2 separate regions of the Homo sapiens genome follow, and region 1 is linked to region 2. A link means that fine-mapping ties the variant in region 2 to the expression of a gene that starts in the linked region. Tissue or cell type: whole blood. Region 2 holds a variant in brackets; the other region holds the start of a gene. All regions are shown on one strand. Distances are between the middles of the regions.

Evidence for each region. PIP is the estimated chance that this variant, and not a neighbour inherited with it, causes the effect.
Region 1: PLIN2 starts here. The variant in region 2 is fine-mapped to the expression of PLIN2 in whole blood (TOPMed, PIP above 0.99).

Annotation. Positions count from the first base shown.
Region 1 is chr9:19,125,864-19,130,061 of GRCh38, reverse strand. It overlaps PLIN2 (perilipin 2), which reads left to right and starts at 2,570. Exons shown (of 8, transcript NM_001122.4): 1 at 2,570-2,643; 2 at 3,614-3,665; 3 at 3,753-3,948. The coding sequence starts at 3,636. RefSeq lists a silencer at 2,232-2,791 and enhancers at 2,304-2,813, 2,814-3,324.
Region 2 is chr9:19,182,022-19,186,510 of GRCh38, reverse strand. No RefSeq gene overlaps it. Among named protein-coding and RNA genes, the nearest start is that of DENND4C, 46 kb to the left of the region's middle. RefSeq lists enhancers at 1-7, 1,986-2,035. The variant T/G (reference allele first, on the strand shown) is at 2,025.

The DNA.
Region 1 (4,198 bases), 56 kb after region 2:
GTTCTCAGACTCACGAAGCTGAAAAACAGTTGGGGATGCAGAATTTGATGTGCTTCATCCTTTGTGGGCTTGAAGAGTCTCTTGTTCCCAAAATTATTCCCTGGGGCCCTCTGCTTCACAGGCAAATAAAAGCAAAAAGAAGCTTGCTCAGCCTTAAGTGAGGAAATGACTCACAGGTTTAAAACAAAAAAGGAAAAGATGGAGGCATTTTGTAGGTGAAAGGGCGAGAGTCTTCTGATGCAAAGTAAGAGGTCATTAGAGCAGGGATGGATTATCAATAAGCAGAGCAAACATTTGCTTAGGGAACAAACAGCGCCGGAACACGAAAAAGAAAAGAAAAACATAATAATTTAATTACTTAAAACACTGAAGATGGCAACATAGGAAAAAACCCAAACCAGAACATTTTTGGACTTCATAACATTTTATGGTTCAGTATTTATGGCTTAGTATTTTATTTTGAATTACATGTGGGGAGGAGGGGTAAAAATACTTTAATTTTTCTTGCTAAGTAAGTACTATTATATATTCAGGTATAATGGGATAAGGGATACCATTTTAATGGGTCCGTTTGGAGCTTTAAATATGATCAACAGTATCTGTGTGCATGCAAGATTGGTTAAGAAACTGGGTTAGACCGAGTGCGGTGGCTCACGCCTGTAATCCCAGCACTTTGGGAGGCCAAGGCGGGCGGATCACGAGGTCAAGCGATCGAGACCATCCTGGCCAACATGGTGAAACCCCGTCTCTACTAAAAATACAAAAATTAGCTGGGCGTGGTGGCCCGCGCTTGTAGTCCCAGCTACTCGGGAGGCTGAGGCAAGAGAATCACTTGAACCCGGGAGGCTGGGGTTGCAGTGAGCCAAGATCGCGCCACTGCACTCCAGCCTGGCGACAGAGCGAGACTCCGTCTCAAAAAACAACAACAACAACAACAACAACAGAAAATGAAAACAAATTGGGGTAAAAGTCTCTGAGAGCTTCCTACAGTTACAACTCCAAAGCTTCACAAAGCCAGTCCCTCCTGGCTGGAGCCAGGGACTCCAACGCTGTGGGCCTCTCAGGGGGCGGACCCGCGGCGCCAGCGCCTGCTCCCTTCCCACCTCCCAACCCTCCTCTCTGCTGTATCCTCCCTGCGAGCTGTGTCGGGGGCCGGGGGGGGGGAGTGGGGGCCGAGGCCGGACAGCTTCATCTGGAAATCCCCCGCCACTCACGGGGGAAGAAGTCCCACGAGCCCTATCTGGCCTCGGGCGCTGGCGCAACTTGTCTGCTCAAATAATCTCGTTCCAAATCTGTGCGTTTTACACAAGAAACAAACAAACAAAACAACAACAACAAAAAAACACAACTGGGACTCAGATGACGTTTTAAGTTGTCTTTGAAAAACAATGCATAACCCTGCACGTATAAAGTTGCCTATGTCACATAACCCTAGGCAGCTGTCATTCTGGAGTGATCTGGAGTTAAGTTTTTTGTTTTCTTTTTCTTTTTTCTTTTCTTTTTTTTTTTTTAGACAGGGTCTCAGTCACTCAGGCTGGGGTGCAGTGGTACAGTGGCGCGATCTCGACTCATTGCAGCCTCGACCACCTGGGCTCAAAAGATTCTTTCACCTCAGCCACCCACCCGCCTGCCCCCAACCCCGCTAAACAGCCGGGACTAGCTGGGACTACAGGCGCGCGCCACCACGCTGGGCTGCTTTCTTTGTATTTTGAGAGAGACGGGGTTTCGCCATGTTGGCCAGGCTGGTGATTCGCTCGCCTCGGCCTCCCAAAGTGCTAGGATTACAGGCGTGAGCCACCGCGCCCAGCCGCCACAAAACTTTTAAAAGTTATTACTTCGCTAAAAATAACAGCGTAGAAGCCATTGTGCAGCGCCACGCGATCTCGGCTCACTGCAGCCTCGACCTCCCAGGCTCAAGCGATCCTCCCATCTTAGCCTCGCAGGTAGCTGGGGCCACAGGCGCACGACACCACGCTGGGCTATTTTTTAAAATAAAATAAAAATCTTCGCCAGGCTGGTCTCGAACTCCTAGGCTCGACAGATCCTCTCGCCTCAGCATCCCAAAGTGTTGTGATTACAGGCGTGAGCCACCGCTTCCATTTTTAGAGTTCTATTCTGAGGACTAACGCCGTTCAACAAGTTGGTGTGAATTTGTTTGCATTTTTCAAAACCCCAAAGCCGGCCTGGGCGCCATCCCCATTTGCCCCGGGCCTCTCAGGACCCCGACCACAGGCAGGACCCCGACCACAGGCAGCGCCCCGACTCCAGGCAGCGCCCCGACTCCAGGCAGGGCTACCTCCAACTCCCAGCCTCCCCAGGCCGGGCCCCCGCCCGGCTCCCGACAGGCTCCTCTCCCCGTGGCGGGGCCCCTCGCCCAGGCAGCACACCCTCTCAACCCGACCGGGCCCCCACCACTCTAGGAGGGCCGGCGTTGGGGGAGGGCGCCGGGACGTGCCCGAGGGTGACACTCGGGCTTGGGACAGGGCGTGCTGCCGCGGGTCACGTGCTGCGGAGGCTTGGGGAGGGGCGGCGAGGCGGGGTTTATAGCCCGGGCGCCCGCGGGCCCCACGCTTTGACCGGGTCGTGGCAGCCGGAGTCGTCTTCGGGACGCGCCTGCTCTTCGCCTTTCGCTGCAGTCCGTCGGTGAGTGCGCGCCCAGTGGGTGCCCCAGCGAACCGGTCCCGGGCCCCCAGCGGCGCCCAGTTGGGGTGGGGGGCTCCCCGGGGCCTTGGGACCGCTGCTCTGCTCCCCGCGGGGCTCAAAGGTGGACGGGACGCGGGGGTGATGGTCCGAGACCCCCCGCTCGCCTCGCGGCTTCCAGGTCCTGGCTGGGTAGGGGCGGTCTGCTGAACCCGCGCTTTCGACCCTTGCCTTTGTGCGTTGAGGCTTCTTTCCTGCCAACAGATTTAGGGCGATTGCTATCGAATGTCCCTTGGCCTGCTTGGGTGGTTGTGGGAAAACAATATTTGTCGAAGGGACATTATCGAAAGGGAAACGCGTTAGAAAACCGCATTTTTTTTTTGACGGAGTCTCGCTCTGTCGCCCAGGCTGGAGTGCAGTGACGCCATCTAGGCTCACTGCAACCTCCGCCTCCCGGGTTCAAGCGATTCTCCTGCCTCAGCCTCCAGAGCAGCTGGGATAACAGGCGCCCGCCACCACGCCCGGCTAATTTTTGTATTTTTAGAAGAGACGGGGTTTCACCACGTTGGTCAGGCTGGTCTTGAACTCCTGACATCAAGCAGTCCACCCCCCTCGGCCTCCCAAAGTGCTGGGATTACAGGCGTGAGCCACCGCGTCCGGCTTGGCTAGCATTTTTGTTAACAGATACTCGGAGAAACAAGAGAAGTATGTCAACAACTTTACTTCTCCCTCCTGAGTATTGCAAGTTTACACATAAGCTCTGAAACTTTGCCTCAAAAGAGGGAGTGGGGTTGTGTGGGTGTGGGTCTTTCAGGAGGGGGACCTGGAGAGCTGGAGAGAGGAAAGAAGTGCAGAAGACTACAGGGAGCTCACCCTGCATTTTTCTCTACTTGTAATCAGCATTTGCTTGGGTTGGGGAATGAATTTGGGAGAGTCTTATCCCGGTGTTCTGAAATAAGTCTCTTTTCTGCAGATTTCTTTCTCCAGGAAGAAAAATGGCATCCGTTGCAGTTGATCCACAACCGGTATGAATTTTGAGTAGCCTTTGTCTACTTTCTCTCCTTTTGTGTTTTGAGAGATTAATAAGCATACCCTCCCTACTTTGATTGCAGAGTGTGGTGACTCGGGTGGTCAACCTGCCCTTGGTGAGCTCCACGTATGACCTCATGTCCTCAGCCTATCTCAGTACAAAGGACCAGTATCCCTACCTGAAGTCTGTGTGTGAGATGGCAGAGAACGGTGTGAAGACCATCACCTCCGTGGCCATGACCAGTGCTCTGCCCATCATCCAGAAGCTAGAGCCGCAAAGTGAGTTCTGATTTTTCAAGATGCAAGTCAAGGGACTGGTCAGTGGCGAGCCCCTGAGCTCACAGCAGTAACATCTGGAACTCCTCAGCCCTTCCTGGGGCATACACTGCCTTTACCTAGAAACTTTCAGGTGACCCTCATTACCGTAAGAGGACTGTTTCTTTTCTTTTCTTTCCTTTTTTTTTTTTTTTGAGATGGAGTCTCACTCTATCACTCAGGCTGGAGTTCAGTGGCGCAGTCTTGGCTCACT
Region 2 (4,489 bases):
ATTACTTAAGGGGTGAGTATTCTTTAGGTGACGGTGCTGATTATGATCCAGTCTATGATTAACACATTTATTACCTAATCTTTTTCCGGGTAACTGAAGTTTAATGTTTGCTGAATTATAGTTGATTGAGAAAGAGGACCTTAAGGAGAGATTTCAGCATCACTTCCACTGAGATTTATTTTTAAAAAGGTTATAGGGTGGTTATTGCCATGCTATTGAGATATCCAGGTGAGCTTTGCATATTTCAGATGCAATTCTCTGGTACAGTTCTATTTTCAGTAAACCTACCCCAATTTCAAAGCTCTAATCAAAAAAGAGGTTGTATTGGCCAGATGCAGTGGCTCACACCTGTAATCCCAGCACTTTGGGAGGCTGAGGCGGGTGGATCACATGAGGCCAGGAGTTCAAGACCAGCCTGGCCAACATAGCAAAACCCCGTCTCTACTAAAAAGACAAAAATTAGTTGGTGTGGTGGTTCACATCTGTAATCCCAGCTACTTGGGAGGCTGAGGCACAAGAATCGCTTGAACCAGGGAGGCGGAGGTTGCAGTGAGCCAAGACTGCCCCACTGTACTCCAGCCTGGGTGACATAGCGAGACTCTGTCTCAAAAAATAAAAATAAAAATAAAAATAATTTTTTTTTAAAAAAAGGTTGTATATGTAATCCCAGCACTTTGGGAGGCCGAGGCAGGCGTATCACCTGAGGTCAGGAGTTCAAGACCAGCATGGCCAATATGGTGAAACCCTATCTCTACTAAAAATACAAAAATTAGCCGGGCGTGTTAGTGGACACTTGTAACCCCAGCTACTCGGGAGACTGAGGCAGGAGAATCGCTTGAACCCCAGAGGCAGAGGTTGCAGTGAGCAGAGATCATACCACACTGCACTCCAGCCTGGATTACAAGAGCAAAACTCCATCTCAAAAAAAAAGAAAAAAGAAAGAAATCAAAACTTAAACACACATTATTTTATTTGATCCTTACAAAAATTCTCTGAGGTAGACAGAAGAGGTTTCTTCCCTGATCACAGAAGAGAAAACAAAGGCTCAAGGAAGTTAATTATTATAACTATTCTACAGCTAATAAGTTGGTTATGCAGTCATTAAGTCTTTATTGAACATCTCTAGCATCCAGGCATTGGGTTAAGGAACCGGGACTCAAGTTCAAATGAATCACACCTCAGTGTTGTTTCTCTTATTTGGAGTAGTTCTTTAATGCATCAGTTTTAAAAGACTGAAAGTTTTAAACTTAGGGTGGCTTTCTTACAACTTAAAACTGTTTAATAGAGAATTCTTAATTCACATAGTATAATATAATATACCCAGCAACATTCTGCAACAGGCCAGGCGCGGTGGCTCACGCCTGTAATCACAGCACTTTGGGAGGCCAAGGCAGGTGGATGATCCAAGTTCATGAGTTCGAGACCAGCCTAGCCAACATGGAGAAACCCTGTCTCTACTAAAAATACAAAAAAAAAAAAAATTAGCTGGGCCTGGTGGCATACTCCTGTAGTCCCAGCTACTGGGGAGGCTGAGGCAGGAGAATCACTTGAACCCAGGAGGCGAAGGTTGCAGTGAACTGCACTCCAGCTGGGACGACAGAACAAGACTCTGCCTAAAAAAAAAAAAATTATGCAACAGTTGACTACAATCAAAAGAGAAAAGTAAAGGTTGACTTTTCTAACTATGGTATTTTGCCTGCTAGGCATTCTAGGTTTTTATTTTAAAAATTTCTTAGGAAACTCCAGCTGTTACAAGGAAGTATTGCTTTTGGTTTAATGTTTTATCCTGCTAGTGCACTCCACCCTTAAGTGATCTTGGTGACTAATAGGACTGGCACCAGTTCTCACTTACCAGATGTGAATTCCACTTACTAGTTTGTTTTTTGTCTTCTGCTAATTTGCAGTTGTAGACAAAAACGGAGTAAAGAAGTTCTTAAAATAAATGAAAATCGGCAATGTAGTCGCTCTTTAATTTTTGAATTGGCCTGGCGCAGTGGCCTCACCTAAGAGTCATATGGTTGTTA[T/G]GTTCCCTGATGTTAGGGGGCCCTCCCCTGCAGCCCACAGTGACTCAGAAGGCAGCTGCCGAGAACAGGAAGGCCTGGGGTTCATGTGACAAGCCACCAGCCTTTACCAGAGCAAACAAAGTAGGTGGGATGTTCCCCTGTCCCCTGCCCACCAGTTTTATAACACATTTCAGGGCTTTTTTTTTCCCTTCCTCAGACTGCTCTGAATTTTCTCTTTGACCTAATTTGATTTGTGGAGAAATGCTGTCGAAAGGGCCTGCTGAGATTTTGTCCTGGCCTGCCTCACTGAAGAAGGCCAACAATCTGTTTGCATAGCAAGAATGAAAAAAATGTTTCTGTGCTTCAGAGATTACTGAATACTTTTTCCAAAATGAATCTGTTCCTTCTAGCAGGGATCGTTTTGCTAGTTGGGAAGATAAAGCTGTCAATATTCAGTAGCTAATCTCTAGATTTCTTTCTGTGATGGAGTCTAGCTCAGTGCAGGCTGAGGGGCAGTGGCACGATCTCAGCTCACTGCAACCTCCCACTCCTGGGTTCAAGCGATTCTCCTGCCTCAGCCTCCCAAGTAGCTGGGATTACAGGCACGCGCCATCACACCTGGCTAATTTTTGTATTTTTGGTAGAGATGGGGTTTCACCATATTGGCCAGGCTGGTCTCAACTCCTGATCTCAAGTGATCCACCCGCCTTGGCCTCCCATAATGCTAGGATTACAGGGGTGAGCCATCACATGTAGCACCAATCTCTAGATTTCAAGAGACCACATATTGTCACAGCTTCTTGGAGATTTTCTTCACTGGATTTAAGTCATTGTTCTCCAAAGTGTGTTCTGAGAGCTACCTACATTTGAATCATCTAGATTAAGGTATCATCATCTCTACTAAAGGACCTTGTAATCTGTGTTTTTTTTTTTTGAGATGAAGTCTCCCTCTATTGCCCAGGCTGGAGTGCAATGGTGCAATCTTGGCTTACTGGCAACCTCCGCCTCCAGGGTTCAAGCAATTATCTGCCTCAGCCTCCCGAATAGCTGGGATTACTGGCACCCGCCACCACACCCAGCTAATTTTTGTATTTTTAGTAGACATGGGGTTTCACCATCTTGGTCAGGCTGGCCTTGAACTCCTGACCTTGTGATCCACCCACCTCGGCCTCCCAAAGTGGTGGGATTACAGGCGTGAGCCACTGCGCCCGGCCCGGAATCTGTTTTTAACAAGCACTACAACTCCCCAGAATTCTTTTTTTTTTTTTTTTTTTGAGATGGAGTCCCTCTCTGTGGCCCAGGCTGGAGTGCAGTGGCGTGATCTCGGCTTACTGCAACCTCCAGCTCCTGGGTTCAAGCAATTTTCCTGCCTCAGCCTCCCGAGTAGCTGGGGTTACAGGCGCCCACCACCACGCTGGCTAATTTTTTGCGTGTATTTTTAGTAGAGACAGGGTTTCACCATCTTGGACAGGCTGGTCTTGAACTAACCTCATGATCCACCTGCCTCGGCCTCCCAAAGTGCTGGGATTACAGGTGTGAGCCACCGCACCGGGCCAAAATTTATTTTTTTGCACAAAATTAACTTAGCTAAATCAGAGTTCACAAGCCTTCACTGGTAATGTGACCCACAGGAGAGAGTCCTGGGGCAGAGGAGGAGTCTTGTTTATGCCTTTCCTGTTTCCATTCCTGTACTCCCTGTCCCTGCCAAAATGCCATTTCTGATAGTGTTGGTCACTGCAGAAGGAAACAGGAAAAAACAGGAAGGAACTGAGGAAACTTCAGTGTTCCCTCTTGATTACAGTAGTGTGGGAAACAGGCCTGGGTTTAGAAAGCAATGCAGCAGAATGCTTAAAAATCATTCACAAAGCTTGGTAAAACCACAGACTCCCCTTCTCCCCATTCTAATTAAGTGGGTATGCGGTGGGGCCTCAGAACCTATATTTGTAAAAATACCTACAGTGATTCTAATGCAGGTTGATCTGGGGGTACATCAGGATATTTCTTATTTAATGTACTGGAGCCCAGAGCTAGAAGTCCCCTTTGACAGCTGTCTTCAAACTGTCGGCACAAAGACCTAAAGTAATTTTACAATATAAAGACATCTGGGTTCTCTAACTGTCACAGGGCAACTCCCCAAACTGGGGATCAGCCCAGGAGGCCATAAGGGTTCTTGACTTTTGGCAGAAAAGAATTAAGGAGGCCATGGTGGCTAATGCCTGTAATCCCAACACTTTGGGAGGCTGAGGCAGGTGGATTGCCTCAGGTCAGGAGTTCGAGAACAGTCTGGCCAACATGGTGAAACCCCATCTCTACTAAAAATACAAAAAAATTAACTGGGTGTGGTGGCATGCACCTGTAATCCCAGCTACTCGGGAGGCTGAGGTAGGGGAATTGCTTGAACCAGGGAGGTGGAGGTTGCAGTGAGCGGAGATCATGCCACTGCACTCTAGCCTGGACAACAGAGCAAGACTCTGTCTCAAAAAAAA